4 linked regions of the Homo sapiens genome follow. The protein of the gene in region 2 interacts with the protein of the main gene of each other region in a pairwise test. Each region holds a gene or a part of one and is shown on either strand. Other genes may lie near its edges. The genes, in order: OR2L13, ZP3, CLDN11 and SPACA3.

Region 1 (5,184 bases), on a different chromosome or scaffold from region 2:
GAAAAAATTATACATTTTTTTTAATTCAAGGAGAAAACCCTGATACTAGTGGAAAAAATGAGTGAGATACATCGCAGACTGAGGAATCTGCCTCCCGGAATGAGCGACAACCCATTTGAAGAAGTAAAAGGAAATTCTAAGTAATGATCTGTTAACTACTATCTGCTTATATTTTCCCCTGGATCTGTAATGTGGCATGAACACTAGTTCCTTAAACTTGCATTGCATACCAATAAACATAAATAAATTACCACAAAAAAATGTCCCCATCATTGCATGCCATAGCACTCCATTCTGTGGGGACCTCCAGGCCAAAATGATGAGGGTCTTGTTCAGAGACTGGGTGACATGAATCAAAGCCTGATTCAAAGAAAACTGGCTTCTAAGTTGTGTTCTTCCCTTCCCAGCTCTCTGACCTAAGACATTTTTCTTGTTTGTTTGTTTTGCCTCACCAAGCCTCAAAGTGCTCACTCAACATGGAATAAATATCGGAATCATAGTGTTGTAGTGCAGGTTAAGTTATGTATGTGGGAAAAGCATTTACAATTAGTAAATATTTGTTAGCCTTATAATCCTAATTATTATAATTTTTAAAATATTCTATGAGCTTCAATTTAAAATAAGACAGACATAGATGTGAATAAGTGTTAATAAAATGTGATCATAAGCAGGAGTAGAAGTGTGGGGGAAAGAGATATCAGCTGTGCACAAGAAGAGATGGGATGTCAATTTTGAGTTATGTTTACTGATTATGTGGGATTCAGATTGATAGTCATAAGCTATGTAAATCAGAACTTTCCAGAAGTGAGACATGGTCTGTGATAAGGTTCAGATGGGCAAGGAAATAGAGGGCTATGGAGAAAGGCAGGAGGTCTAGAGTGACTGTGGTACTGAGTGTAAGTGATAGAAACAGGTAAAGGGAGACATAATGCATGCTTTAAAAGCATGGGGATATAAGTTTCATGTTCCAAAATTTAGATAATCCAACAGGAATCATAGATTATAGAATGACAAGATCAAATGTATGTTTAGGGAAATAACTCAAATGGCAATGAGTACACTATATTCTCAGTAAGAACTGGACTCAAGAGATGAAAACACTTAAGGCAGTAAGAAACTAGAAAAAGATATTGGGAGCTTGAATTTGGGCAGTAAATAAAAGGGATATATTAATACAAGTCTCAATTTTTTTTCCACAAAAATCAGAACCCCTCTATAACTCCAACTATTGATAGACTTGAAGTCACTTAAGTGAATTAGTAAAACAACCATAGTAAAACTTTTGTTAAACACAACTTTCCATATAGCAACATAGGATTTCATCCTGTGCAAAGTCATATACATATTTTACACATCAAAGCTGAAGCCTGAGGTCCCAGTTTCCGTTTTATATTTTGCATGCTGTCTCTACCCTGTCACTGTCTCTGTGCCTTTATATAAATAATTTCTTTAAGTACAACTTTGATAAAGTTATTTATATAAAGATTTTATTAATTTTTATGTATACATAAATGTGGGTTCTTTTATATTCATATTCAAGTTATTTTATCTCAGTATCTTTATGAAATCAGCAAAATCATAAGTCAGATAAGCTCTCCCTGAATAGTTTTATTAAAGGAGTTAGGATAAACTGGACTTCAAATGTTAATTACAATAAATGTGCATATGCTAAAAATGAGCCAACAGATAAAGAAACACATAAACACTACCTTAGCATGTGCATTTTACTTGTTAATTTTCAGTTCATCAGCAATATTGTATATAACAAAAATATGTTTGTATACACCATACATGCACATACACATGCATATATAACTTCTGAAACTATTGATTGGGGATGCTCTAAGAATGTGCTGTCCAACACTATAGACACTGACTACTGGGCACTTGAAATGTGTTTTGTCCAAGCTGCGCTGCACTCTATAAAACAAACACAAGACTTTGAAGACTTAGAATGCAAACAGAGTAAAAGGCAACATTAACAAATTTGTGTTATTACATGAAGAAATTCTATGTCAATATACAAGAATAAACATTATCACGTTAATAGTAATATATGTACAAACATGTACTATAATATATTGCATATAATTTATTGAAATAGTATGCTATGTAATTAACATCAATATTGTTAATATTAATATTAATTATAACATTGTTTTGAATTAAATATATTATTTAAATTTATTTGACTGCTTAAATGTACCTATTAGAAAATTTTAAATTATGTTGTATTTCTATTGGACAACCCTGCTCTAGCGTGTTGGAATCAACTTGGAAAGAGGAAATACAAAGGGAGTGGGGATGGCCATGATTATTCTTTCAGGAAAGAGAATATCCCAAACACTCTCCTCATAGCCCCCAGGACTTCCTTATTCCTCAGGCTGTAGATAATGGGATTGAGCATGGGGGTAAGGATGGTGTAGAAGACTGCCAGGATCTTGTCTTCAGCTGGTGAGCGGAGATTCCTGGGCCGAAGATAGGTGTAGACAAAAGGTGCATAGTAAAAGATCACTACAGTTAAATGTGTTGAAATGGTGGTGAAGGCCTTTTTTCTCCCCTCCTTTGAGTGCATATGATAGACAGCAAATAGGACTCGGCCACAGGAAGAAGTGATGCCAATGAAAGGGAAAAGGAGAAAGAGGCTTGTACTTACAAAAACCATATATTCATAGACCCAAGTATCTGTACAGGCAAGAAGCAACATGGCTGGGACATCGCAGAAGAAATGGTCAATAGCCCTAGACCTGCAGTAGGGAATATGAAGGGCAAAGACTGTGTGTGCCAAGGAGTTGATGGACCCCAGTGTCCAAGAGCCTCCAATCATCTTCACACACATCATTTTACTCATGCGGATAGGATAATAGAGAGAGTGGCAGATGGCCAAATAACGGTCGTAGGCCATGGAGGTCAGGAGTAAGCCTTCAGAACACGCCATGGTCAGGAAGAAGAAGCTTTGCACACCACATCCCAGGAAGGAGATGCCTTTCTGGCCGGACAGGAAGTTGTACGCCATCTTGGGGACGGTGGTGGAGATGTACATCAGGTCCATAAGGGAGAGCTGGCTGAGAAGAAAGTACATCGGTGTGTGGAGACGAGGATCCACGTGGATGAGGTGAATCATGGCCGAGTTACCCACCGAGGCCAGAAAGAATATGAGGATGATAAGGCACAAGAGAAATATTCCAGTTTGATTTGGGGGAAGCAGACCCAACAAAATGAAATCATTTGAAGTGTGATTCCATTTCTCCATGAAAACTTTCTGCTGTAACTGTTGAAAGAGAAATAGAAACAAAAGCAAAGCACAAAACATGAAATAAAACACAATAGAAAAACAAAAAGGAACTGACTTTATCAATGTTTGTTTAGAATGAGTTGTTTCTCCACTAACACTGCAGGTTTTTTTTAATCAATTTCTATATCTGAAGCATATGGAGATTAGAGAGGATATTCACTTTCTGTTCTTATAGTTTGATTTTCATTACTGTAGATGACAGCAGAGTCAAGCAGCTACAAATCTATTCAACTGGAAAAGCCAGTGTGAGCAGTAGAACAATTGTAATTTATGGCTTAAGCATGTCTTCCAATTTAATTAGATAGAACAACACAATTAAATGTTAATAATTGAGAATAAAGAAATCAAGCAAACAAAAATAAATAATTTTCCCTCCCTGGAAAGTTTGTCTAGCTTTTTATGCCTAGGCTTTTCCTTGGGAATTTTTATTTATGACTTTTAGAATCTCTCTTTTTCTCTTTACACCACCCCAAATCTGGCAGTTTGTTTTTTTCTTCATGCAGTTTCCCAGGTATTCGTAAACTATATTTCTAACATCTGTGTGACTTCTTCCTTTACCTGGGCTTGGAGTGAGAGGTCATGTTTTGTGTGTGCTCTTCTGTCTGAGGCAGACACTGATGTCTCATCCTGCCCAGCATATTGATTTGGTTAGTCATCTTGGGTTACTGATTTTTCAACTTTTGCTGTTCAAAAGCAAATCATAGTTTGTTGCAATTATTCACATTTAGGAACTTAAACTCAACTGTTAGTTCATATAACCTTGGGTAGCATGAATACAATTGTGAAAGAGAGCCTGCCACAGGAAAAAAAATGGAAATTCATTTCTATAGCTGTCTAAGGAATAAACACTAACAATGAAAAGTTGGGAACATGACAGGTGCACAGTAGCATTGGACTTGGATGCCAAATGGGATCACAGGCACTCTCTGCTTCTTATAGTGCTTTAGAAATAAAAACTGATCAGAAAAAAACATGAAAACCATCATTATGATACATTCATTTCCTCAAATAGTGTTCACTGAATTTATGTTTTATGACAGTGCTGCTAGCTACTGATGTGCTTTGGTGATGAAACACAAAGGATTTTAGAATATGTAATTAAAATTGAGATAATTATACAAACAATAGACCAACAAACTCAAACATACAGTGATGTTATGTAGTGATTACGATTCTATAGAAAAATAAAAAAGCAGAGAGATCATTGGATTAAACAAAGGAATTCAAAAAGTATTCCAAACGACTTTTCTAATTTCCAGGGTATGTATGATAAAGATTGATTTTGTAACTCATGTGGCTTCATTCTATCAGTAAGAACTATCCTAGTAATTTAGTTCCAAGCAAATATTTGATTAATTTTATCAGATTAACATGTTGACAGCCTTTGATGCAGTAGTCACTGAGTGAGGCAGTGGGGATAGAATGATTCATCAGGTGCTGTCCCATCCCCAAGTGGGCGACCAACTGTCCTGATGTGCCCAGGCCTTAGGGGATGCCCAACATGTCCTGGAAATTGGAAAAGCCTTTTGTAGTGCTTTCTGAATTCCTTTGTTTAATCCAGGTTTAAATCCAGGGGAAGAAAGCTGCCAGCATGATCCCATGAGGTGTATCCAATACCGAGCCCTGAACAAGCTGACTTGGGTGTAGGTTTATGTGTTCCATCCTGGAGTTGTTTTGAAGAGAGACATTTTGATTCTTTGTTGCATAGACTATAGCTCAGAGTATTATAAAGATTGTTTTATGGCAGTTACTACAATAATGATTTTGTTTCCAAAAATGGAAAAGTGGCATGTTGTTAGGCAATGGAAGAGAATAGTTACTTTTAGGATCCTGTGAATCTGGGACTTGGAGATTTTAGGTCATGGGATATTGGAGTTTGAGTTTAGGAT
Region 2 (9,014 bases):
TTGGCCAGGCTGGTCTCAAACTCCTGACTTCAAGTGATCCTCCTGCCTCGGCCTCCCAAAGTGCTGGGATTACAGGCATTAGCCACCACACCCAGCCTCTTCTTTCTCTTCCTCCTCCCCCTCCTCCCCTTCCTCTTCCCCTTCCTATTCCTCTTCCTCTTCTTCCCTCCTCCTCCACCTCCTCCTTCTTCTTCATAGAGATAAAGTCTCACTATGTTGCCCAGCTGTTCCCAAACTCCTGGCCTCAAGAAATCCTCCTGCTTCGGCCTCCCAAAATCGTGTGCTGGGATTATAGGTGTGAGCCACCACACTCACACCAGATGTTCTTTTTCTGCAAAAACCTTGGCTTTTTGATCCTTAGCTCTTCCATATAAATTTTAGAATCAGTTTACTAAGCTCTGCCCACATACAGCTAAAACATGTTGGGATCTTGATAGAAATTACAGATTAATTTTGGGAGAATTGAAATAGTGATGATATTGCATTTCCCATCCATGAACATGGAATACCTCTGTAAATTTAGACATTCTTTACTCTGACTGCCAATACAGTTTTGTTAATTTTTCCTCAAAGATCTTACATATCTTTTTTTGTCTGTTTTATACCTAGGAACTTCATATTTTGTTTTAGCAATTGCTTTTGGAACTTGGTTAACAGCATCGTCTTCTGTCTCACTTGAATCTGACACAGAGAGTTTTTTATGTTTTTGGTTATTTTTTGTTTTACTTTTTATTTTGAAATTAAACTGATGAAAGTTGCACAGATAACACTAAGAAACCTGTTTACCTTTTACCCAGGTTCAGCCAATATAAAGATTGATACATATCCTCCCTCTCTCCCTGTATCTCTTTATATTTATGTCTATATATAACATATATATACACATACATATATATTTCCACGTGTGTGTGTGTGTGTGTGTGTGTCTCCACTTTTTTTTTTTTTTAGTGAGACTAAGTCTCAGTCTGTCACCCAAGCTGGAGAGCAGTGGCACAATCTCAGCTCACTGCAACCTCCACCTCCCAGGTTCAAGTGATTCTCTTGCCTCAGCCTCCTGAGTAGCTGGGATTATAGGCGTGTGCCACCACGTCAGCTAATTTTTTGTATTTTTAGTAGAGATGGGGTTTCACCATATTGGCCAGGCTGGTCTTAAACTCCTGACCTCGTGATCTGCTCGTCTCAGCCTCCCAAAGTGCTGGGATGACAGGCGTGAGCCACTGCGCCCCGCCATTTCCACATTTTTTTGAGATGAGGTCTCACTCTATTGCCCAGGCTGGAATGCAGTAGCATGATCATGACTCACTGAAGCTTAGAACTCCCAGGCTCAAGCAACCCAAGTAGCTAGGTTCCCAAGTAGCTAGGACTACAGCTTCCCAAGTAGCTAGGACTACAGGTGTGTGCCAACATGCCTGACTAATTTCTTTGATTTTGTAGAGATGGGGCCTCACTGTATTGTCCAGGCTGGTCTCGAACTCCTGGGCTCAAGCAATCCTCCCACCTTAGCCTCCCAAAGTGCTGAGATTACAGATGTGAGCCATTATGCCTGGCAGATTTTTAATTTTTTAAAATTATATATATATACACACACATATATATGTATAATTTTTTTTTTTTTTGAGATGGAGTCTCGCCCAGGCTGGAGTGCAGTGGCGCAATCTCGGCTCACTGCAACATCTGCTTCCCAGGTTTAAGCAATTCTCCCACCTCAGCCTCCTGAGTAGCTGGGACTACAGGCATGAGCCACCATGCCCAGCTAATGCCATTAGTTTTTGTATTCTTCCTCCTCTCTTGCAGGAATTTCACCCAGGGACAGCATAGAGTAGGCCATTGGTAAATGCTGTACCTGTCAGTCCTTCATCATCTCCTGATAGGACCCTTGCAGTAGACTTTTGTTGTTGTTGTTTTGTTTTGAGACAGAGTGTTGCTCTGTTACCCAGGCTGGAGTACAGCGGCGTGATCTTGGCTCACTACAACCTCCACCTCCTGGGTTCAAGCGATTCTCCCGCCTCAGCCTCCCAAGTAGCTGGGATTACAGGCATGTGCCACCACACCAGGCTAATTTTGTATTTTTAGTAGAGACGGGGTTTCTCCATATTGGCTTAGGCTGGTCTCGATCTCCTGACCTCAGGTGATCCGCCCACCTCGGCCTCCCAAAATGCTGGGATTACAGACATGAGCCACTACGCCCGGCCAATACTATTCCTTTCATGGCCTCTTTTTCCCACAGGGCTAAGTCCAGCATCTCAGCCTGGCACCCACAGGGTTCTGCCCCGCCCACCTCCCCGGCCTCCTAAATTGCTACTCTCACTCCCAGGGACCTGAGGCTTCACCAGGTTACCTACCCCAACCATGGGTCCTCAGGCCCTCAGTGCAATAGAAATTGACATGAGGTGGCCAGGCGCGGTGGCTCACGCCTATAATCCCAGCACTTTGGGAGGCTGAGGCAGGCGGATCACCTGAGGTCAGGAGTTCCAGACCAGCCTGACCAACATGGTGGAACCCTGTCTTTACTAAAAATACAAAAAGTAGCTGGGCTTGGTGGCAGGCGCCTGTAATCCCAGCTACTCAGGAGGCTGAGGGAGGAGAATTGCTTGAATCCAGGAGGAGGAGGTTGCAGTGAGCTGAGATCGCGCCACTGCACTCCAGCCTGGGCGACAGAGCAAGATTCCGTCTCAAAAAAAAAAAAAAGAAAGAAAAGAAATTAACATGAGGGCCAGGCACAGTGGCTCACACCTGTAATCCCAGCACTTTGGGAGGCCGAGGAGGGAGAATCACTTGAGGTCCAGAGTTCGAGACCAGCCTGGCCAACATGGTGAAACCCCGTCTTTACTAAAAATACAAAAGTTAGCCGGGCATGGTGACGGGTGCCTGTAATCCCAGCTACTCGGGAGGCTGAGGTGGAGAATCACTTGAACCCAGGAGGCGGAGGTTGCAGTGAGTCGAGATAGCACCACTGCACTCCAGCCTGGGCGACAGAATGAGATCCTGTCTCAAAAGAAAGAAAGAGAGAGAGAGAGAGAGAGAAAGAAAGAAAGAAAGAAAGAAAGAAAGAAAGAAAGAAAGAAAGAAAGAAAGAAAGAAAAGAAATTGACAGGAGGCTAAACGAGTTTTCCTAGACAAAGCTTCATTGGAGCTTATGCCCAGACATAAAGGAGGCAGCATGAGAGAGAGAGGGAGAGAGAGGGAAAGAGAGAGGGAGAGAGAGGGAAAGAGAGAGAGAGAGGGAAAGAGAGAGAGAGAGGGAAAGATATAGAGATTTTTCTATCTGACTCTCCAAAAAGAGCCAGGAGGGCTTTTTTATTAGGCAAAGCATGGGAATTTACATCAGGGATAGGGCATGCCGGCTGTGCTGGGCAAAGCACGTGAAGGTATGCAGGTTGGCATTATCTGGTTGCCATGGTTATCTTGAGTTATGGGCCACCTGGTAGTCTGGCTGGTGGCAACAAGGCTGTCAATCAGTTCAGCATTCCTTCCTGAGGTGGGACACTCCACAACCTTGGTTTGATATTTGAATCTCCTAAGGTCAGTTCCTGGGATTCTCTTAAGTAATAGGCATGTTTCCACATGATGATGTCAGTGAAATCGTGGTATGGGTCTGGTGATCACTGGGAATGCAGGAAAGAATGCAGTGGTTGGGCCAGGTGTGGTGGCTCATGTCTGTAATCCCAGCACTTTGGGAGACTGAGGTGGGCGGATCCCTTGTGGTGAGGAGCTGGGCATGGTGGAACAAGCCTGTAATCCCAGTTACTCGGGAGAGTAAGGCAGAAGAATTGCTTGAACCTGGGAGGCGGAGGCTGCAGTGAGCTGAGATTGCACCACTACACTCCAGCCTGGGCAACAGAGTGAGATTGTCTCAAAAAAAAAAAAGAATGCCCTGGTCGGGGTGAGCTGAAGCCAAGCCCCGCTTCTGCTGTGTCTCAGTATGAACTCCGGGGGATTCACCCAGGAATGAAGAACGCAGGGCCCCTTCTCCACCTCTCTTCACACAGCTGCCTCTGCCTGAACTGACCTACCCCCCGGCCTCCCATAAAATAAGGCAGAGACCCATGAAATTCCTCCTGTCTCCTAATTGATACCGCCTCCTTTTTCTCACACTTGGAATGAGCTCCTTATGTCTCAGATCTAATCCCCCTGACTCTTCAATCAAGGGCTTTCTCCTGTGTCCCCCACAGACCTGGGACAGCTCCCTTGCCGGGCTGCGAGCTTCCTAAGGGCAGGGCCAGCAGGGGATCGGAGGGAAGCTGTGATACATTGTGGTGCACCAGGCAGGCAGCACACTCTTTGCAAACTTTTACATGAATACACATGGGGATTTACAAGCTAAAAACTTTCAAGTGGGCTGGGGCGGGCGCGGTGGCTCACACCTGTCATCCCAGCACTTTGGGAGGCTGAGGCAGGAGGATCACTGGAGGTCAGGACTTCAAGACCAGCCTGCCCAACATAGTGAAACCCTGTCTCTACCAAAAATACAAAAATTAGCCAGGCGCGGTGGCGCATGCCTTCCTGTAATCCCAGCTATTTGGGAGTCTGAGGCAGGAGAATCACTTGAACCTGGCTGAGAAGTGGAGGATGCAGTGAAACGAGATCATACCACTGCACTCCAGCCTGGACAACAGAGTGAGACTCTGTCTCAAAACAAAACAAAACACAACAAAAACAAACAAACCACAAACACACACACACACAGCAAAAAAAAACTTTAATGTGGATACACGTGGGGGATTTCCAAGCTAAAAACCAAATTCTGCTGTGGTCATGCTGGGGTGAAGGCTGAGAGTTTGCAGTTCTAACAAGCTCCCAGGTGTTACTGATGCTTCTGGATGGAGACCACTTTATGCAACAAGGGCCCAGCTGGCTAGGGAAGGGAGGCAGCTGAGAAGCTGAGAGCCCAGGTGGCAGCAGCCAGCATCCCACGGGTATAAGATGGCCAGAGGCGGCTGCCTGCTGCTCTGCAGGTACCATGGAGCTGAGCTATAGGCTCTTCATCTGCCTCCTGCTCTGGGGTAGTACTGAGCTGTGCTACCCCCAACCCCTCTGGCTCTTGCAGGGTGGAGCCAGCCATCCTGAGACGTCCGTACAGCCCGTACTGGTGGAGTGTCAGGAGGCCACTCTGATGGTCATGGTCAGCAAAGACCTTTTTGGCACCGGGAAGCTCATCAGGGCTGCTGACCTCACCTTGGGCCCAGAGGCCTGTGAGCCTCTGGTCTCCATGGACACAGAAGATGTGGTCAGGTTTGAGGTTGGACTCCACGAGTGTGGCAACAGCATGCAGGTAAGAGAGGCTGGGGGCCCTGGCTTTGGTGGGAGGATGTTCGAGGCAGCCGGGTATGGGGACTGTGGCCACCATCGGTGGGAGGTGGGGTTGGGTGGATCCCTCTCACTTGTAGGTGGGGAGGTGGCCCAGTTGAGGCCTGAAGCTGGCACTGAGGTCACCGGACCCAGGGCAGCTCCTGCCTCTGATGCCCGACATTGGGTCGATGGGGTGGAGCCAGAGGTGGCCGTGCACTTCAGGCTGGCCCAAGCCACGCCACTCTCTCTCAGGTGGGTTTGTGACACACACAGGCCTGCGTGATAGGATAGCCCTGTGGGTAGCCTAAGGGGCTGTTTCTAAGGCTGGGGGCATTAGGAACTCATCCTGAAGAGACCCAAAGTATACATTATCTTAAAAACAACAAGTGGGCCGGGTGCAGTGGCTCATGCCTGTAGTCCCAGCACTATGGGAGGCCAAGACTGGAGGATCACTTGAGGCCAGGAGTTTGAGGCCAGCCTGGGCAACATAGTGAGACCCCATCTCTTAAGCCTTTAAAAAAACTAACTGGGGCCTGGTGTGGTGGCTCACGCCTGTAATTCCAGCACTTTGGGAGGCTGAGGAGTTTGAGACCAGCCTGGCCAACATGGTGAAACCCCATCTCTACTAATAATACAAAAATTAGCCAGGCATGGTGGTGCGTGTCTGTAATCCCAGCTACTCAGGAGGCTGAGGCAGGAGAATCGCTTGAACCCAGGAGGCAAAGGTTGCAGTGAGCTGAGATTGTGCCACTGCACTCCAGCCTAGGCAACAGAGCGAGACTCTGGCTCAAAAAAAAAAAAAAAATTCCACATAGATAAGTGGTATGGGGGCGGGGGCATCATAACCTTGGTGTTAAAGACCTTAAAAGCATCAGTGGGTCCCTGGGGGCAGCTCCAAGGGGGAGAGGCTTAACCTGTGGTACATGCAGGAAAAGACCAAGAAATCCAGGCCAGACCTCCCTTTCCCTAGCCAGTGGGGAAAGAGGCTGCAAGGAGAGGCCTTACGGCAGGGCAGGGCTGGGCACACAGCTCCCCAGCTAAACCCTGATCCCTGGACCAAGTTCCTGTGGTCCCATGGAGGGCCTGTCCTCTCCCGCCTCAGGGGAACCTGGCTCCTCCTCACCTGGGCCTAGACCCAGTAGCTTGCCTGGGATGGGGGCAAGTCCAGCCCCTGGAGCCCTCCGGCCAGAGCTCTGGTCTTAACTGTGGTCTCCTGGGCTCTCTTTGAGGACTCGAGGCCCTTGTTTTCCTGGGGAGGGAGGCCAGAGAGCTGCAGGAGTTACTTGAGGAATTATTCCAGTTTAGAGGCTCACAAACATGTCTTAGATTTACTTGGGGAGCCAGGTGCCTGGCTCCCCCCCCTTCTGTGAAATGGGCTTTAATAGGTTAGAAGCTGATAAGTGGTATTTTTTTGTTGTTGTTTTTGTTTTTTGAGACAGTTTTGCTCTTATTGCCCAGGCTGGAGTGCAATGGCGCCTATAATCCCAGCACTTTGGGAGGCTGAGATGGGAGGATCACTTGGGCCCGGGAGTTTAAGGCCACCCTGGGCAACATAATGAGACCCCCTTCTCTACCAAACACCACACACACACACACACACACACACACACACACAATAGGGTGTGGTGGCGCCTGCCTTTAGTCTCAGCTACTTGGGAGGCTGAAGTGGGAGGATTGCTTAAACCCATGATTTGGAGGCTGCAGTGAGCTACGATTGTGCCACTGCATTCCAGCCTGGAAGGCAGAGCAAGACCCTCTTTTATTAACCCCACCTGTGGAGCTTCTAAAAATCCTGATGTCCAGGCTGCTAAAATAGAAAGGATGTGGGACCAGCTGTGGGTAATAAGGATCTCAGGTGACTCCAATGAGGAGCAAAGCCTGCAAACTCCTTCCTCTGGTGTGGTGTTTCCCAGTTTTGCCCGGTGAGAATCACCTGCGGCTGGCCGTGCGCAGTGGCTCACGCCTGTAATCCCAGCACTTTGGGAGGCCGAGGCGGGTGAATCACGAGGTCAGGAGTTCAAGACCAGCCTGGCCACGATGGTGAAACCTCATCTCTACTAAAAATACAAAGAAGTTAGCCGGGTGTGGTGGCGGGCACCTGTAATCCCAGCTACTCAGGAGTCTGAGGCAGAGAATTGCTTGAACCCGGGAGGCGTAGGTTGCAGTGAGTTGAGATCGTGCCACTGCACTCCAGCCTGGGCAACAGAGTGAGACTCCGTCTCAAAAAAAAAAAAAAAAAAAATACAGCCATGGCCAGTTTCCCAGGTATACAACCTGTGCAGTTCTGTGGGGCCCAGTGCTTAATGGAATGCCCTCTTGCCCTGAAATGGTAATAACTTTTGAATAAGGGGCCCCACGAGCTATGCTGGTTCTGTCTGTGCTGGGGCACTTGCTAATAAGGTCTAGGACTATTCCCTGAAGATCGAGTTTGGTCAGGGCCAGGCAGCCACCTGAGCTCTTGGGCAACTTCGACCTCCTAGGCTCAAGCCATCCTCCTGCCTCAGCCTCCTGAATAGCTGGGATGGACTACAGGCACATGCCACCGTGCCCAGCCAAGTTATGTTTTTGTAGAGATGGGGTCTAGCTCTATTGCCCAGGCTGGTCGTGACTTCCTGGCCTCAAGCAATCCTCTTCCCTCCCAAAGTGCTGGGATTACAGGCATGAGCCACTGCACCCAGCCCTCAAGTAGTTTTTAAATAAGCTCCCTGAGATGAGAGGTGGGGATAGTGAGCTTAGAATAGGTGGTTGGGGGTTGAGTCATGGTGGCTCACACCTGTAATCCAGCACTTTGGGAGGCTGAGGCAGGTGGATCACCTGAGGCCAGGAGTTCGAGACCAGCCTGGCTAACATGGCGAAACCCTGTCTCTATTTAAAAAAAAAAAAAAAAGGCACGGTGGCACGTGCCTGTAATTCCAGCTACTCAGAGGCTGAAGCAGAGAATTGCTTGAACCTGGGAGGCGGAGGTTGCAGTGAGCCGAGTTCGTGCCACTGCACTCCAGCCTGGGTGACAGAGCAAGACTGCATCTCAAAAAAACAAAAGGTGGTTAGGAAGTGACTAAAGTAGGGGTTTCCAGTGCTGGCTCTATGCTAATCACCTGGAAAGGTTGTAAAAATACTGATTCTCAAGAGAATCTCATACCTTCACTCTACTGGGGTAGGGCCTAGCGTCACATTTTTCTAATATTCTAGCAAAATCTTCGAACTTAGGTGTTTGCTATAAAACTCTCTCCCAGGCAGGCCCTGCCTTCTGCAGCCCTATTGGACGATGCAAATTTCCCCAGTAGTACTCACCTGTGCTCTTCCTGCCTCAGGCAACCTCTGAATCAGTCTCCCCCACCTTATGTGAAATGGGCTTGAATAGGTTAGAAGCTGATGTGGGTTGTTGTGTTTTTTGTTTGTTTTTGTTTTTGAGAGTTTTGCTCTTGTTGCCCAGGCTAGAATGCAATGGCACGATCTCCGCTCACTGCAACCTCTGCCTCCCGGGTTCAAGCGATTCTTCTGCCTCAGTCTCCCGAGTAGCTGGGATTACAGGCACGTGCCACCACACTCAGCTAATTTTTTTTTTTTAAGTAGAGATGGGGTTTCACCATGTTGGTCAGGCTGGTCTCAAACTCCTGACCTCAGATGATCTGCCCTCCTCAGCCTCCCAAAGTGCTGGGATTACGGGCGTGAGCCACAGCGCCCAGCCAGAAGCTGATAAGTGTTAACAGCTGGGCACTTCCTGA
Region 3 (8,028 bases), on a different chromosome or scaffold from region 2:
AGCCCAGGAGTTCGAAACCAGCCTGGCCAACATGGCAAAACCCCATCCCTACTAAAAATACAAAAGTTAGGCCAGCCTGGTGGTGTGCACCTGTGATTCCAGCTACTTGGGAGGCTGAGGATTGATGCTCGGGAGAATGAGTCTGCAGTGAGTCGAGATTGCACCACTGCCCTCCAGCCTGGGTGACAGATATCCTATCAAAAAAAAAAAAAAAAAGATTTATTGGAAGGAGGAAGAAATGTCAGTGTCTACTGATCTTGTCTTTCTCTGCCTCTTTGTCTGTCTGTCTGTCTCTCTTTCTCTCAGTTGTTACCTCCAACGTCAAACATACCTGTATTGATTTTATTTAACTTCATGTTTATTTAACTCCATGTGTTACCATGTGTCATCTCATCTTTAAAGAGATTAAAAGCCACACTTACATTTCATTGCTTTAAAATGGACTTCTCAAATATTTTCTGTTTGGTCACATCACCATCATTCTTAGTTTTTAACAAGGCATATCTTATCAATTAAAGAATGTATTGTGTTGCATTATTTGAAACTTGTTCTCAAAAGGGGCAAACAATTTTATTCTTTGAAGAGCAAGGAATTCTGCTTATGAGAGGACCAGGTTTAGATATATCTGTCTTTACATAGTGAAGCTTTCTTTTCCCTTCCCTTTCTCTCCCTTCTCTTCCCCCTTCTCCTCCTTCTCATTTTTAGCTAAGAATATACCTCAGTTTTACTTTCTGTTTTCCAACAACAAATGGTACCCCCCACCACCTTGTGTAGTTAGCTGTTGCATCTTCTGAAGGTAAAAAAGGAGAAAAACTGAAAAATCTGAGTGCTAAAATTACTCTGTCTTGTTTTTAGAGACTTAATTTAAAAATAAACTCTGATGATATAAAAAGAAAAAGAACAAAAATTCCCTTTGTCTGTCTTCAATTTTCTTGACCTTACAGGTAACTGACTTTCTAGAAAAACACTTTCTTTATTTTTCCCAAATAACAGAGAGAACCATTCCAAACTCATCTTTTTGGGTTTGCGAATAAAATTAAAACTATCAGGCCTTCTGTGTCTTTAAGAAAGGCAATTATTTTTGGCCAGTTATATTACTATTTCACATTTTTAAAAGTTAAGTAATGATTTGTCTTGAATTTTTAACTTTACTGGTCAAAACATATCTCTTTCTCTCTTGAAACCATTGCTGAAATTGAGTAAATTCTCCTTTTTTAGTTTTTAAACATTTCTCATTTTGGGTTCAATTGAAGGTCACTGTTTTCAGTGAGCCTCTCATTTCCTTTCATGTTGTGTGGCAGTCTGTCATTTTTTAGTGGTTTTGATGTGGTTCATCTTTGAGAGCCACAGGAATTCCACCCAGGGTTCATTTGTCTCCTAGGAAGTAAAGAGCCTGCTGGCACTCATTTGCCTTGTTTTGTGTGAATTGTAAGAGAAGGAAATCTTTAATGAGGTCAGTGATGAGCTTGCGACTTTAAGTGTGTTAAAGTCACAATAAGATTTTATGACTTTGGGTGTCAGTTTTGGTATGTATGAAGTAAAATGTAGAATTGAAATGAGACTACTTCTCATCTATCCATCCATTCGTTCCCCCGTTCACTCATCCATTCCTATGGAGGTTCATTGTATGAAATATTTAGACCTTTTTCTGATTTTTCCCTTTTTCTAATGATTTATATTGGAATAAAACCTAACAAAATCCCTAAAATACTCAAAACCAAGACTGATGGTTACTTTTGGGATATTGAGTCTGTTATTTCCCTGTGTGAAGATAATCTTGTTTTATGATTTGCTTAAGGGAACAATGAAATGAATTTAGAGGCAGTTTCTTGTCTTATTCTATAAAATCTCAGTGTGAAAGTTAGGTTAACAATAGATGTGGGGAATGCTTTCCTGCATGTGTGTGCACATGTGCTGTATGTGTAAATACAAAGTATAGTTGAAAAATATAAAACTTGATTTGAACCCTGAGTTGTTTTGAAACCAGTTAATTGTTTATAGGAAAGATCGGTTAGATTGAACCATATCAGTTGTTTGGGAATTAGAACTTTTTTCTCTACAGAATTCAGCTTTTCACTCCCCTTCTTTTTCCTCTAAACAAGCCTGGGTGTTTGGAAGCCTTTGCTAGGTTGCTGTTTTTTGCCCACAGCAGAACGAATGCCCACTTTTGAGGTTTAGGGCTGTGTAAGTAGATTGTGTATTGCTACGGAAAATCTACAGTAGTTCTCTCTGGCTGAAACACTCCAGAAGAGGATTTTAGTCCCTTTTGCTGACAGAGAAAAAGGTTTTTCTCTGTGTCTTGCTGAAAGTAGAGACTCTGATAATAGCCAAGCAATTCTCCAAGAGTGCCTGATTTGGAGTTCACGCCAGAGAAGAGAAAGAAAAAGACTTTCCCCTGCATCTGAGGTTTCCAAAGTCCTGAGCTAGAAAGGGAGGTTTCACGTACACACTGCTTTTCTTGAACATTCTAGTCACAGAAGGAAAATACATCTTCTCATGGTATCTCATATGAAAATATTACAGAAGCTGGCATGACTGTGCTTACTTTTTAAGAAAAAGGAAGCATTAGCATATGGATAGATTTTAGCTTCTTCTTTTTCTCTTTTTTTTTTTTTGACACAGAATCTTGCTTTGTTGCCCAGGCTGGAGTGCAGTGGCAAGATCTCCGCTCACTGCATGCAACCTCTGCCTTCTGGGTTCAAGCAATTCTCCCTGCCTCAGCCTCCTGAGTAGCTGGGATTACAGTCACCCACCATCCATGCCTGGCTAATTTTTGTATTTTTTTGTAGAGATGGGGTTTTGCCATGTTGGCCAGGCTGATCTTGAACTCCTGACCTCAGGTGATTCGCCCACCTTGGCCTCCCAAAGTGCTGGGATTAAAGGTGTGAGCCACCATGCCTGGCCAATTTTAGCTTCTTAGATAATCTATAAATAATTAATGGAGTGAATTTGGGCTGTTAGAAAGCCAATCTGGGCAATTCATAGCTTTTCAAATTAACTCTCTTCCTTCTGATTTCCTCTTGAGATCTATTCTTTTTAAGGATAGAAATCATATCTTCCTACATATATCTATACCCAGCTTGTGGGGGTGGGCTTAATCTATTGTCAATAAAAATCTATGTTACAAGCAACACAAATGCGATGAGATTGTTTAAAAGGTCTTTCAAAATGGGTAAGACCAATCTTTTTTCCATTTAGAACTAATATACAAGGCTGTTAGATTTGATTGCTTATGTTAAGTTATATTTCTTCTCTGTGGGCATAGAGAGTAAGTTAGAAAATCACTTACTATGAGTAGAAATCAGAAAAAAGCTTGCTGAGTTGAAAGTGATAACGGTACCCCTGGTGGCAAACATCAGACTGGCAGTGCAGTATCTGTCTTGAATTTGTTGATGGAAACCTCATTGTTATTATTATTGTTATTATTATTTTTCTGTCTGCCAACTTTAATGTGCCATCTCAACTTAAAGAGGTTTGGAGTTACTTTGTTTAGAGCTGTGTTGTTCGGTACAGTAGCCACTAGCTACATGTGGCCATTTAAATTAAAATTAATGAAAATTCAAAATTCAGTTCTTCATCTCACTAGCCTCATGGCAAATGATCAATGGTCCCACATAACTTGTGGCCACTCCATTTGACAGTGCTGGTCTAGAGATTTGAAAAAAGTAAAAAAAAGTCTTTATAGCCTCTTGCCTGCCCATGTTTTGTTACTTTGCTTATAAAGAGGTGAAAAACTACATGATATATAAGCTATTTCTTATTTTACTCTATAAAATCAAAACCAAAATGAAGATTAGATTGATTGGTGCAAGACCATAAGTAAAGTTCTACCATTTTGACCCTTGAATGGGTGAGTTTTTCTACTCCAAGGACTGTTCATTTGTGTGTTGGGATTTTGTGATTGTGAACAGTGTAATAAAAACTTGAACCTTTATCTGGTACTCCGTTTTCATCTAGCAACATTCACCACAGCAAGAGAAATTTCATACCTTCTCCAGATCTTTGTAATGTGAATTGACCAAACTGAGAAAATAGAGTGGAAAATTGAGGTGGCTGCCATCTTGTTTCTCATATTTGAATAGCTCAGATCATTCAGCCATTCAACTGGTCTACATTGAGCACATACTATTTGCCTTGTACCAAGGTAGACATAGGTAAGACATGGACCCTACCTTCAAAGAACTCAGAGCTTAGAATGATGCATAGACATGTAAAGGGGTAATTATAATACAATTAAGTAAGAATACTAATTTTAGAATTATAACTGTAGATATGAAGTGTTGATATACAAGTAAATACAAATAAATATTTTTTGGACTTAAATGGTTTATTTCTAGGTTTTTACACTGGAATTGTTTTGTCTCTGTTACCTGCTGAAAAAAATAAGGACCCAGCAGTCTACTTCTTCTACAGATGCCAACTGCTACATATTGGTTCAGTGTTGAGGGAGCAGAACTGTGTGTATGGAGCTTTTTGGAGCTGGTTGGAAGCCACAAGTGTGTGTATGTGGAGTGAGTGGGCCTGCCCAAGTGCTTGGTGTGTGATGGTTGCGCCCAGTCACCGCCTCTCCATGTCTCTCCAGCTCTCTGCGCCCTTGTTGCCACCATCTGGTTCCCTGTGTGCGCCCACCGTGAGACCACCATCGTGAGCTTTGGCTACTCCCTGTATGCAGGCTGGATTGGTGCTGTGCTGTGCCTCGTGGGTGGCTGTGTCATCCTCTGCTGCGCTGGAGATGCCCAGGCCTTTGGTGAAAACCGTTTCTACTACACTGCGGGCTCTAGCTCCCCGACTCATGCGAAGAGTGCCCACGTATAAGAGGGCTGCCCGGCTGCCCACAGAGGTGCTGTAGATGCTGGGCCCAGGGCCCTAGGTTTGCTCGTCACAGTGTGGGGAAGCCCATTCCTCTGCCAGGCTCTAAAGCCAAAGGTCTAGAAAAGCATCCTGTCTGGCATTTTGTAGTCTTAACTTCTCCCCATTTCCCCCATCTTTTGGTTGCCTTAAAAGAAATCTCTAGCTCAGATAATGCCCAGACATTTTTTTCCCTTGGTGTTGCCCCTATTAGCTCTTTTCTTGGGCATTCTTTTGCTGTTTATTAAAAATATATTATATATATTTTGTTTCTTTAAATTTCAAATGTTTTGCAAACATCACTGAGTTAGGTGGGGGTGGGGAAGAGAAATACAAGATACTTTTTTTTTTTTTTTTTTTTTTTTTTTTTTAAATAGGGCCTCACTCTGTTGCTCAGGCTGGAGTGCGGTGGTGTGATCTCGGCTCATGTAGCCTCAACCTCCCCGGCTCAAGTGATCCTCCTGCCTCAGCCTCCCAAGTAGCTGGGACTACAGGCGTTCACTACTACACCCAGCTAATTTTTAAGTTTTTTATAGAGATGAGGGCTCCCTATGTTGCCCAGGTTGGTCTCGAACTCCTGGACTCAAAGTATCCTCCCGCCTCGGCCTCCCAAAGTGTTGGGATTATAGGAGTGAGCCACCACACCGGCCAAGATGCTTTTCAAACTGATACAGATGACAATGGGAGCCTCATAAAGATGGCTTTTGTTTCTTCCCTTCAAGGTCATTTACTTGTACGAGACAGAAAAAGATAGCATTGGGGACATGGGATGGGGGAGGGAGGGCAATAGTGGAACGAACTTTCCATGGGAAACTTTCCCTTTTGTAAGTTGAGGGCCAGGGGTAGGGATATTTTTTAGTTTGTGATTTTACATTTATCTGTACATACTTTTTCAAGATTGATCATTTTTATAACCATGGTTTTCCTGAAATCCTCAATTCATCAATATGAAGGAAATGAACCACATAGACTTTATGCAATAAATAACAGTGCAAGTGAGTATAACTCTAACTGATGTTCCACAAAACATTTTTGATTTCAGGTTTGTATGATGTAGTTTTTAATCGTACATTTTCATATGCTTCAAACTAACACATTTTTAAAGCTTTCCCCCACTTTTCTCTCTATTTGTATTGTTAGCCATCTTGAAGTGATGTTGTTTAACATAAATTGTACTGTTGAATTTGGCTTTACGGGTGTAAACACTGATGGTATATCAGTATCTGAGACCCCAAACTCTCCAAATACTGATGGTGCATTTTATTCTTGAAGTGAAATCTGTGCAATAAAATAACAGACTGTCTGCAAAACTGGCCTTCAATCTTCTGTTGTATCCAGAGGTATCATTATTGATTTAAAAAAATCTCATTAATCTCTACTGGTAATTTATAGGGAATCTGATCAGTGATTCAAGAACAAGTAATTCTGCATTGCCTTGAATAATTAAAAAGTTATATTTTATTCACGGTATTGCAGTGGTAATTTGTGGTCATGAAAGCATAACCTCAGTGCTCTCTAGGTTTCTTAAGTGGGGTGACTTTATGGCATCTTTAATCATCGATCAATGGGCAGCAATCAGAAACAAAGTTCTCAGCATTATGCAGTTAATGTCCTTCATCTACTTCTAACACTTAGTAAAGGAATTGATTGGCTAGGTATAAAAAGAGAATTAACGAAACCTATTTTATTGGATCTTTAAGTAATAATATCTAAATACATTTCGTTCAAACATACATATGTAGCTGTTTGGACATTTTGGACAAAGACACATTGAGTTGATTTTTATTTGTTTTTCTGTTCCAGAAACTTCATCAAGTTACGGGCCTGGTCTAAGAAAACACATTGCAATCTATTTTGGCAGACTTCTTTCAAATAAAATACTAATTTCATTAGCTGATAGTATAGTAATTGGCAAACATTTCCTCTTTGGAAATACCAATTTGGGCTAGCCATTTTGCAGAAATTTGTGTAGTTTTGATTATAACCTGTTGGAGAGCATTTCTAAATTACTTATACATAAAAGATAATCTTTTTTTTGTTTGTTTTTTTGAGAAGAAGTCTCGGTCTGTTGCCCAGGCTGGAGAGCAGTGGTGCGATCTCGGCTCTCTGCAACCTCCGCCCCTTGGGTTCAAGCGATTCTTGTGCCTCAGCCTCCCAAGTAGCTGGGACTACAGGTATGTGCCACCACACCTGGCTAATTTTTGTATTTTTAGTGGAGACAGGGTTTTGCCATGTTGGCCGGGGTGGTCTGGAACTCCTGGCTTCAAGTGATCCTCCTGCATCAGCCTTCCGAAGTGTTGGAATTATAGGCGTGAGCCACCGTGCCTGGCCATAGAAGACAATTTTTATGTTAACTAAAATATTTGCTTAGCTATTATAATATAGCTTTTGTAAGGATAAAAGTCATGTGACTACATTGGAGGACTCTCCCTACCTCATTAAAAGTTGTCAAGGTATAACGATTATGAACCAGAAGGGAGCAAAAAGCGTTTGAGGGAGTGGACGAGGAGGCTTCAGACCCCATGATCCCTTTCCTCACAACCACCAGCTTGTGTCAGAAGTGTCATTAAGTGGGTCTCCTCTCTTATGGATGTATTGACTCGCCCGCTCCTTCCCTGAGCTGCTGCTTGTTTTCTCTCATAAGGGGGCTGCTGCATGAGCTCCACTTTTCCCTTCCGTGTAAGAAGAGAGACTCCCAAATCGCTCCTAGCTGACCATTCCCTGACTAATGAGGGAATCCCAATTTGGAGGTCATAACTCTAGTGTTAGGTTTAGTATCAGTTTGATGGAGGAGAGGTTGATGTGCCTCTAGAACAGTACTGTCCACTAGGAATACGATGTGAGCTGTTTAAAATTTTCCAGTAGCCACATTTCAAAAGCTAAAAATAAACAAGTGAAATTAATTTATTTTATTTGATCCAGTACATCCAAAATATTATCATTTCAATATGTAATCAATTGATGAGATATTTCACGCCCTTGTTTTTGTATTGTCTTTGGAAGAGCGTGTATTTTACACTTGCAGCACATTTCCATTTACACCAGCCACATTTCAAGTGTTCAGTAGCCACATGTGGCTGGAGGCTTTTGGATTGGACAGCACAACTGTGGAACAACAGGTTCTGTCTCAGTAACCATCGAGAGGATCAGTCTTGATTATCTTATCTGCTGTCATTAGAG
Region 4 (8,509 bases), on a different chromosome or scaffold from region 2:
GGTGGAGCCACCACCACTCTGGCTCAGAGCTGAGCTTTGGGATGACAGGCAGCTCACCAGCCTCCGTGGTCCACTCACAGAAGGAGAAGAAACAGGGCTTGAGTGCACCCCTGGGAAAGGGGAGAGGAGAGAAGGGGTGGGCAGAAGGCCAGGCTCCAGCAGCACGTATCAGCCCCCTTGCATTCCTGATCAGCATCACCCTGACCCCGAGACCAGCCCCTCTCCTTCCCCATCCTGCTTCACACCACCCAGGCCAGAGACAGGAAGAAAACTAACCTATTGTAAGCTCCATATTACACGTTACGGATTATTTAGTCCTGAGGCCCAAGATTTTATAACTAGGAAGGGGCGAAGTTTGGATGGAGACAAAGTTCTATAAATCCAAAGCCCCACTGAGCAGATGCTCCCGGAGGGGATGGCCAGGCGGTGTGTTCATGGGTCTCTCAGCCCAACTGTCAAGGGACAGCCCTTCTGGCATTGACCCTCCATCTCCAGATCTTAACTGAAACAAGGTCTCCCCCAGAACACTGCTCCCCTATAGCCCGCTCAAGGGGAAGCTGCTCTTTCTCCACACACAAGACCCCAAGATGTCCCGAGAGTCTCCTCCACCCCCACCACCACTTCTAAACCATAACCTGCAAAAAGCCCTTCTCCCTGGAAGCCCAGCCTGCCCGTCTGGTTTGACCTCCCTGCCCTGTCATCATTGGCTGTGTGTGGCCAGTCCCCCAAATCACAGAGGACATTAGCACCTGGGTGTCACAGCATCAGGGCTCCTTCATCTCCCCAGACCTAGTCCCCTCCAGTTCCTCTGTGTCTCAGCCAGTCCCTCCCCTGCCCTGGTCATCCCTGCTTCTTGTCCTCACCCGCATTTCCCCACCTCTGTGAGCTCCTATCCCACTGCCCACCACCTCTGACAAGCCTTCCCATGCTTCTCTTGACCTCTGCGCCTCCACACCTGCTCTCCACCTTCACAGAGTCAAAAAGTGAAAGAGTTGTACAAACTCTTGTTTGTGCCAATTGGTGTCCCTGGTCTCCAACCTCCACGGGACCTTGAATGCCCCCGAGGATGACAAAGTGGTTGAGGTCATGGCTTTGCAGCAAGGTTCGGGTTGGAAGCCCCCCTCTGCTCCTTGCTCCATCTCTGATTTTGGGCCCTCCCTGAGGCTTGTTTCTTCCTCTATAAAATGAGGACGTGAGTAACACCTGCCTCATATGATTGTTGGAAGAATAAATGAGAAAAGGCGTGGGCACAGCGTAGCTCTTGGCACTAAAAATAAGTGAGTTGTTGTTTCTGTTATGAACTACAACTAACACTGGTACTCGCGCTTGTCTCTGCTCAGACTTCTCTCTCCCATTTCCCTCACAGGAAATGAAAACCCTCAGTATTGTCCTTTAGCACGCCACGCTGTCCCACCCCTTGGCTCTCAGAACATGATCTCGTCTCCTGCTGCACTAAGAAAAGCAAGGTGCTCACTTGTGGAATTTCTTCCTCTTTCTGCCTTAGCCCTGCTCACTTGCAAACTCATCAGTAGCCTCCTCGCCCTCATCTCCACCCCGTCATTGTTTGGGTACGGGGCCTCCAATCTCATGCAGGCCCATCTTCCCTCTAAGCTCTAGATTTGTCCTTCCCATCACCAAGCCTTGCTCCATCCGTTGTCCCTCCTCTCCCGGCGCGCTAGCACCGTTCCCCTCCTGCTCCTCCTTCCCCTGCTCGTAGAGACTTTCTCAGTCTCCATCTTCTAAATGCCTTCCCTCAAGTCTCATGCTGACTGCTACTCCCTTGTCTCTTTCCCCCTCTTCTCGCCCAAACTCCTGGGGAAAATCGCCACTTTCTCCCTCCCGCTTGTTTTCCAACCTGGTGAATTGGCCTCCCTGCCATCACCGCGCGCTGAAACTGCTCTGCGGGTCCAAGGAGGCCCCCTTCGACTCTGTCTCATGGGAGCTCTCAGCTGTACTCATGCCGTCCGCCACCCGCTGTTGAAAGGCTTGCCTCTCCTGGTTTCCACGATGCTCCCTTCTCCCAGGTTTCCTCCTCCCTCTCTGGCTGACTCTCCTCCTTATCCTCCGTGGAATTCACTTCTGCCCAGGCCATAAACGCTGATATGCTTTCTAAGGCCTTCCTGCCTTGAGCCCTCTTCTCTTCCACTTTGAGGAAACCCCCTGGGCAGCCCTGCTGTTAGCCACCGCCTGAAGGCTGGCAACCCCTGTGGCATCTTCCCCAAGACCTCAGAGGCAGCTACTGGCAGGACACTTCCACTTGAATGCCCTGCAGGCACCTCAAACCCAGCACATCTAAACAGAACCACTGTTTCCATCAATGCCTTCTTCTGCCTTGTGACTTTCCTTATGTGCTTTAAAACATGATGGGCCACACATTTACCCAAACTGGAAATATGAATGTCATTCTTCACTCCTTCCCCATGACATCTTTCACCCAGTTCCAACCAATCAGTCCCAATGTCCTGTGGATTCCACCTTCCCTCCGAGAGCACCGTCCTTTCCTAGGTTCACACCTCCATCCTGGCTTCCTTCATGGTCTTCTTGTATCATGTCTCAACCACTCTTCCAAGCTATTCTATACACATCCATCAGAACAAATTTGTTAAATGAAAAGCCCAGCCCTGTGACACCTTGGATGGCTCCCACCATAACTGCCCCTTCGAGGTCCACACGGCCCTTCACGACCCTTCACAGCCCAGCCCTGCGGCCCACTCCCTCATTCACACGTTATGTTTCAGCAGTGCCACCTTGTTCTCTCACAATGACCTTGCTTTCTAGAACATTCACCCTCTCCTTTCCTCTACATGGTTAACTCTGACTCATACTTGAAGGGTCTTATCAGAGGTGTGTTCCCCAGTGAGAGTCTCCTGGCATGCCACCACCCCCCACACTCTCACACACCCGATCTTCCACATCCTCTGTCACACGAGGCTGGAATAGATGTCAGTCTTTCCCACCACAAAGTTAACTTCTGAAGAACGGCGGCTGGTCTTATTTATCTGCATGTCTTATTTATCTGCAGAGTTGCTGGCATGGAGTAGCTGCTCTGTGGCTGCTTCTGAAACTCAAGTCCACAAAAGGCGTGGCCACAGGGACATGAGACCTTCTTCTCACCGCGAGGGGAGTGAGAAGGAGGAGGCAGCCAACCTGGTGGAGTTTGTCAAGTCTTTGAACACTGTGCCAGGCCTTTCCCAGAGCTTTTCCAACTTAATCTCATCCAATCCTCTCAGCAATTGAAAGGTGTGGGGTTAATATCCCTAAGTTGTAGAGGAGGAAACTAAATTGACTGCTACACATGGACTGTTTTTGATTTTTTTTTTTTTTTTTTTTTTGTAGAAAAGTGACTTAAAAGGAATTCCATCCTGAGCATTTCACAACAGCTCCAGAGTTTCTCTCTCTCTCTCTCTCTCCTCTCTCAGCTGGTCACTCTTCCAGGCCAGGATAACCCCACCCTAACCACCACCTTGTTTTTCTCCACCTGGTCTCTGGCCAGACCAACCCAGCGCCCCTGTTAACAGCCCCAGGAAGAAGGGAAAGGGGGCTCACTGATCAGGGGTGCTCCCCGCAGAGCTGAGACCATGGTGACAATGGCAGCAGCAGCAGTGGCTCAAAACCCTGCTTCAGCTCAAGATGTCCCCCACAACCTTGCCAGGGCCCCAGGCACCCAGTGTTAAGAGAACAATGGGGAAGGCAGGCTCCAGGCCAACGGAGGGCCTTCTAGAACTCCAGCTCTGTGAGCTCATCTTCCACAAACAGCGCCACCACAGAGCTTTGACTAGCCCACCTGAGCCCTTCCACTCAGGGTCCAGAGGCAGAGCAGGATATCTAATCCCAGCCCCCTTGCACATCTCTGCCCCACACACACACACACATACACACATGCGCGCGCGCACACACACACACACACACACACACACACACACACTACACTGAGGGATGACACTTCCTCTCCCAACAGATCTTTCAGATGATTATCCAGGGATAATGGTAGACACCTAGGGATGGTGATGGATGTACAGAGATGGTGATGGGTACCCAGGGATGTTAACAGGTGTGCAAGGACAGTGGTGCGTGTGCAAGGATGGTAGTGGGTGCCCAGAGATGGTGGTGTGTGTGCAGGGATGGTAGTGGGTGCACGGGGATGATGGTGGGTGCCCAGGGATGGTGATAGATGTGCAGGGATGGTGGTTGGTGCCCAGAAATAGTGGTGGATATGCAGGCATTGTGGTGGGTGCCCAGGGACAGTGGTGGGTGTGCAAGAACAGTGGTGGATGTGCAAGGATGGTAGTGGGTGCCCAGGGATGGTGGCAGATATGCAGTGATGGTGGTAGGTGCCCAGGCACAGTGGTGGGTGTGCAGGGACAGTAGTGGGTGCCCAGGGATGGCAGTGGGTGCCCCAGGATGGTGGTGGGTGTGCAGGGATGTTGGTGGGTGCCCAGGCACAGTGATGGGTGTGCATGGATGGAAGTGGGTGCCCAAGGATGGTAGCAGGTGCCCCAGGATGGTGGTGCATGTGCAGGGATGGTGGTGGGTGTTCAGAGACAGTGGTGGATGTGCAGGGATGGTAGTGTTGGGTGCCCAGGGATGGTGGTGGATGTTCAGGAATGGCGGTGGGTGCGCAGAGGCAGAGGTGAGTGTGTAGGATGGTGGTCAGTGTGCAGGTACGGTGGTAAGTGTGCAAGGATAGTGGTAGATTCCCAGAGATGGTGATGTGTGCCCAAGGATTGTGAGGGATGTGCAGGGATGGGGGTAGGTGCCCAGGGATGGTGGTGGGTTCCTAGGGATGGTGGTGGTTGCCCTCTGCTTTTCCAGGCTGCCCATCTCACCATGAAGCTCCTTTGAGTGCCAGAAAGTTCTTCCTTAATGCTGAGCCACAAGCCACTCCCTTCTCCACCTGGATGATGGCCATTCAGTGTGGACAGGTGCAGGGCAAAGGTTACCCTATTGACCCTAAAACTTAAAGGACAGAGAATTGGAAGGAAAGGGCATGTGGTGCCCACGTCTGTGTCCCACAGGAGCCTGAGTCCCACAGCACAGCAGCTAGAGCATAGGCTTTGGGGTCAGGCTGACCAGGGCTGAACACAGGCGCTAGTGACTTCCAGGTGGATGACCTAGAGAAAACAGCCTCACTTTCTGATTCCTTGATTCTCAAGCGGGGATGACAACACCAACCTCACAGGGTACTAGGAAGGCTCAATGAAACAGCAACAAAGTGCTTAGTACCCCAGGTGCTCAATAAATAATAGTAATTACTACTAAGTGCAGAGCACAGCCATAAAAGTGTCTGGTTGCACCATGTCCACCCTATCTGTCTGGGCCCCACCCCAGGACAACCAAGTTAAAATTGAGGGATGGCCCAGCATCAGCACCAGTATTTTTTTCTTTCATTTTTTTATTGAGGTAAGAACACTTAGTAGGAGATCTACCCTCTTAACATATATTTAATATGCAATCCATTATTGTTGACTGTAGAGGACACTGCTGTACAGCAGCTCTCTTGAGCTCATTCATCTTGCCTGACTGGATTTTCTTTTTTTTCTTTTTTTCTTTTCTTTTTTTTTTTTTGTTTTTTGTTTTTTGTTTTTTGAGATGGAGTTTCACTCTTTTGCCAGGGCTAGAGTGAAGTGGCATGATCTCGGCTCACTACAACCTCTGCCCCCTGCGTTCAAGCTATTCTCCTGCCTCAGCCTCCCAAGTAGCTGGGATTACAGGCATGCACCACCACGCCTGGCTAATCTTTGTATTTTTAGTAGAGACAGGGTTTCACCATGTTGGCCAGGCTGGTCTCGAACTCCTGACCTCAGGTGATCCACCTGCCTTGGCCTCCCAAAGTGCTGGGGTTACAGGCGTGAGCCACCACACCCAGCCACCTGACTGGATCTTTATGCTCATTGATTAGTAACTCCCTGTTTTCTCCTCCTGCCAGCCCCTGGTGACCACCATTCCTCTCTTTGATTCCATGAATTTGACTATTCTAGGTACCTGATAAAAGTAGAATTATTTCCTTTTCTGTAACTGGCATATTTCACTTTGCATATTGTCCTTAAATCTCATCCATATTGTTGCATATGTCAGAAATTTCTTCTTTTTTAAGCCTGAATAGTATTCCACTTTGTGTGTATACCACATTTTCTTTATCCATTCATCTGTGTGTGTTAGCTCATTTTGCATTGCCATAAAGGAACATCTGAGGCTGGGGAACTTAATAAAGAAAAGAAGTTTATTTGGCTCACAGTTCTGTAGGCTGTACAGGAAATATGGTGCCAGCATCTGCTGGGCTTCTGCGAGGCCTCAAGAAGGTTTTACTCATGGTGGAAGGTGAAGGGGGAGCAAGCATGTCACATGGCAGGAGAGGGAGCAAGAGAGATGGAAGGAGATGCCAGGTTCTTTTAAACAACCAGCTCTTGCATGAACTAATAGGATGAGAGCTCACTCATTGCCACAAGGCCAGCACAAAGCCATTTATGAGGGATCCACCACCATGACCCAAACACCTCCCAATAGGACCCACCTCCAACACTGGAGATCACATTTCAACATGAGATTTGGAGGAGACACATGTCCAAACCATATCACAGTGGATGGACACATGTTTCCACCTCTTGGCTTTTGTGAACAATGCTGCAATGAACATGTGATATTGTTTGGCTCTGTGTCCCCACCCAAATCTCAACTTGAATTGCAATCCCCATGTGTCAAAGGAGGAAGTTTTAATTCCCACGTGTCAAGGGAGGGAGGGGATTGGACCATGGGAGGGTTTCCCCCATGCTGGTTTCATGATAGTGAGTGAGTTCTCATGAGATCTAATGGTTTTCTAAGCATCTGACATTTCTACCGCTTGCACTTCTCTCATTTGCCACCTTGTAAAACGTGCCTGCTTCCCCTTCAGCCATGATTGTAAGTTTCCTGAGCCACCTCCACCAGCCATGTGGAACTGTGAGTTAATTAAATCTCTTTCCTTTATAAATTACCCAGTTTTGGGTATTTCTTTATAGCAGTGTGAAAATGGACTAATACAGTAAATTGGTACCAATGTAGTGGGGCACTGCTATAAAGATAACTTGAAAATGTGAAAGCAATTTTGGAACTGAGTAACAGGCAGAGGTTGGAACAGGTTGGAGGGCTCAGAAGAAGACAGGAAGATGTGGGAAAGTTTGGAACTTCCTAAAGATTTGTTGAATGGTTTTGGCCAAAATGCTGATAGTGATATGGACAATGAAGCCCAGGCTCAGGCGGTCACAGATAGAGATGAGGAGCTTATTGGGAACTGGAGCAAAGGTCACTATTGCTATGCTTTAGCAAAGAGACTGGTGCCATTTTGACCATGCCCTGGAGATCTGTGGAACTTTGAACTTGAGAGAGATGATTTAGGGTATCTGGCAGAAGAAATTTCTAAGCAGCAAAGCATTCAAGAAGTGACCTGGGTGCTCTCAAAAGCATTTAGTTATACGCATTCACAAAGACATGGTTTGGAATTTTAACTTATGTTTAAAAGGGAAGCAGAGCATAAAGGTTTGGAAAATTTGCAGCCTGACCACGTGGTAGAAAAGAAAAACCCAGTTTCTGAGGAAGAATTCAAATGAGCTGCAGAAATTTGCATAAGTAACCAGGAACCAAATGTTAGTAGCCAAGACAATGGGAAAAATGTCTCCAAGGCATGTTAGAGATCTTCAAGCCAGCTCCTCTCATCATAGGCCTGGAGTCCTAGGAGGAAAAAATAATTTTATGGGCAAGGCCCAGCACCCTGCTGCTTTGTGCAGCCTTGGCACTTGGTGCCCTGCATCCCAGCCACTCCAGCTCCAGCCAGAGCTAAAAGGGGCCATGGCTTCAGAGGGTACAAACTCCAAGCCTTGGTGGCTTCCACGTGGTGTTGGGCCTGCAGGTGCACAGAAGTCAAGAATTGAGGTTTGGAAACCTCCACTACATTTCAGAGGATGTATGAAAACACCTGGATGTGCAGGCAGAAACCTGCTGCAGGGGTGGAGCCCTCATGGAGAACCTCTGCTAGGGCAGTGTGGAAGGGAAATGTGGGGTTAGAGCCCCCACACAGAGTCCCCACTGGGGCACTGCCTAGTGGAGCTATGAGAAGAGGGTCACTGTTCTCCAGACCCCAGAATGGTAGATCCACTGAAAGCTTGCACTGTGCAACTAGAAAAGCCACAGACACTCAATGCCAGCTGGTGAAAGCAGCCGAGAGGGAGGCTCCACCCTGCAAAACCACAGGGGCAGAGCTGCCCAAGACCATGGGAACCCACCTCTTGCATCAGCATGACCTTGATGTGACACATAAAGTCAAAGGAGATTTTGGAGCTTTGAGATTTAATGACTGACCAGCTGGGTTTTGGACTTGCATAGGGCCTGTAGCCCATGTGTTTTGGCCAATTTCTCCCATTTGGAATGGAAACATTTACCCAATGCCTGTACCCCCATTGTATTTACTGTTTTAGCCCATTTTCACACTGCTATAAAGAAATACCTGAGACTGGGTAATTTATAAAAGAACAAGGTT

Evidence for each region.
Region 1: the proteins of ZP3 (region 2) and OR2L13 interact in a two-hybrid assay, tested with the Homo sapiens proteins (one study listed by BioGRID).
Region 3: the proteins of ZP3 (region 2) and CLDN11 interact in binary tests that used the Homo sapiens proteins (3 or more experiments, as listed by UniProt).
Region 4: the proteins of ZP3 (region 2) and SPACA3 interact in a two-hybrid assay, tested with the Homo sapiens proteins (one study listed by BioGRID and IntAct).

Annotation. Positions count from the first base shown.
Region 1 is NC_000001.11:248,097,445-248,102,628, reverse strand, and holds the end of OR2L13 (olfactory receptor 2L13), read right to left. Parts: intron 3,979-5,184; 5' UTR 3,854-3,978; intron 3,272-3,853; 5' UTR 3,254-3,271; coding exon 2,315-3,253; 3' UTR 1,466-2,314; downstream 1-1,465. UniProt on the Homo sapiens protein: Odorant receptor.
Region 2 is NC_000007.14:76,420,005-76,429,018, forward strand, and holds the start of ZP3 (zona pellucida sperm-binding protein 3 isoform 1 precursor), read left to right. Parts: upstream 1-4,945; 5' UTR 4,946-4,960; coding exon 4,961-5,272; intron 5,273-9,014. UniProt on the Homo sapiens protein: Component of the zona pellucida, an extracellular matrix surrounding oocytes which mediates sperm binding, induction of the acrosome reaction and prevents post-fertilization polyspermy.
Region 3 is NC_000003.12:170,427,942-170,435,969, forward strand, and holds the end of CLDN11 (claudin-11), read left to right. Parts: intron 1-4,582; coding exon 4,583-4,815; 3' UTR 4,816-6,750; downstream 6,751-8,028. UniProt on the Homo sapiens protein: Plays a major role in tight junction-specific obliteration of the intercellular space, through calcium-independent cell-adhesion activity.
Region 4 is NC_000017.11:32,987,010-32,995,518, reverse strand, and holds the start of SPACA3 (sperm acrosome membrane-associated protein 3), read right to left. Parts: upstream 3,673-8,509; 5' UTR 3,581-3,672; coding exon 3,547-3,580; intron 2,669-3,546; exon of another isoform or gene 2,514-2,668; intron 111-2,513; coding exon 1-110. UniProt on the Homo sapiens protein: Sperm surface membrane protein that may be involved in sperm-egg plasma membrane adhesion and fusion during fertilization.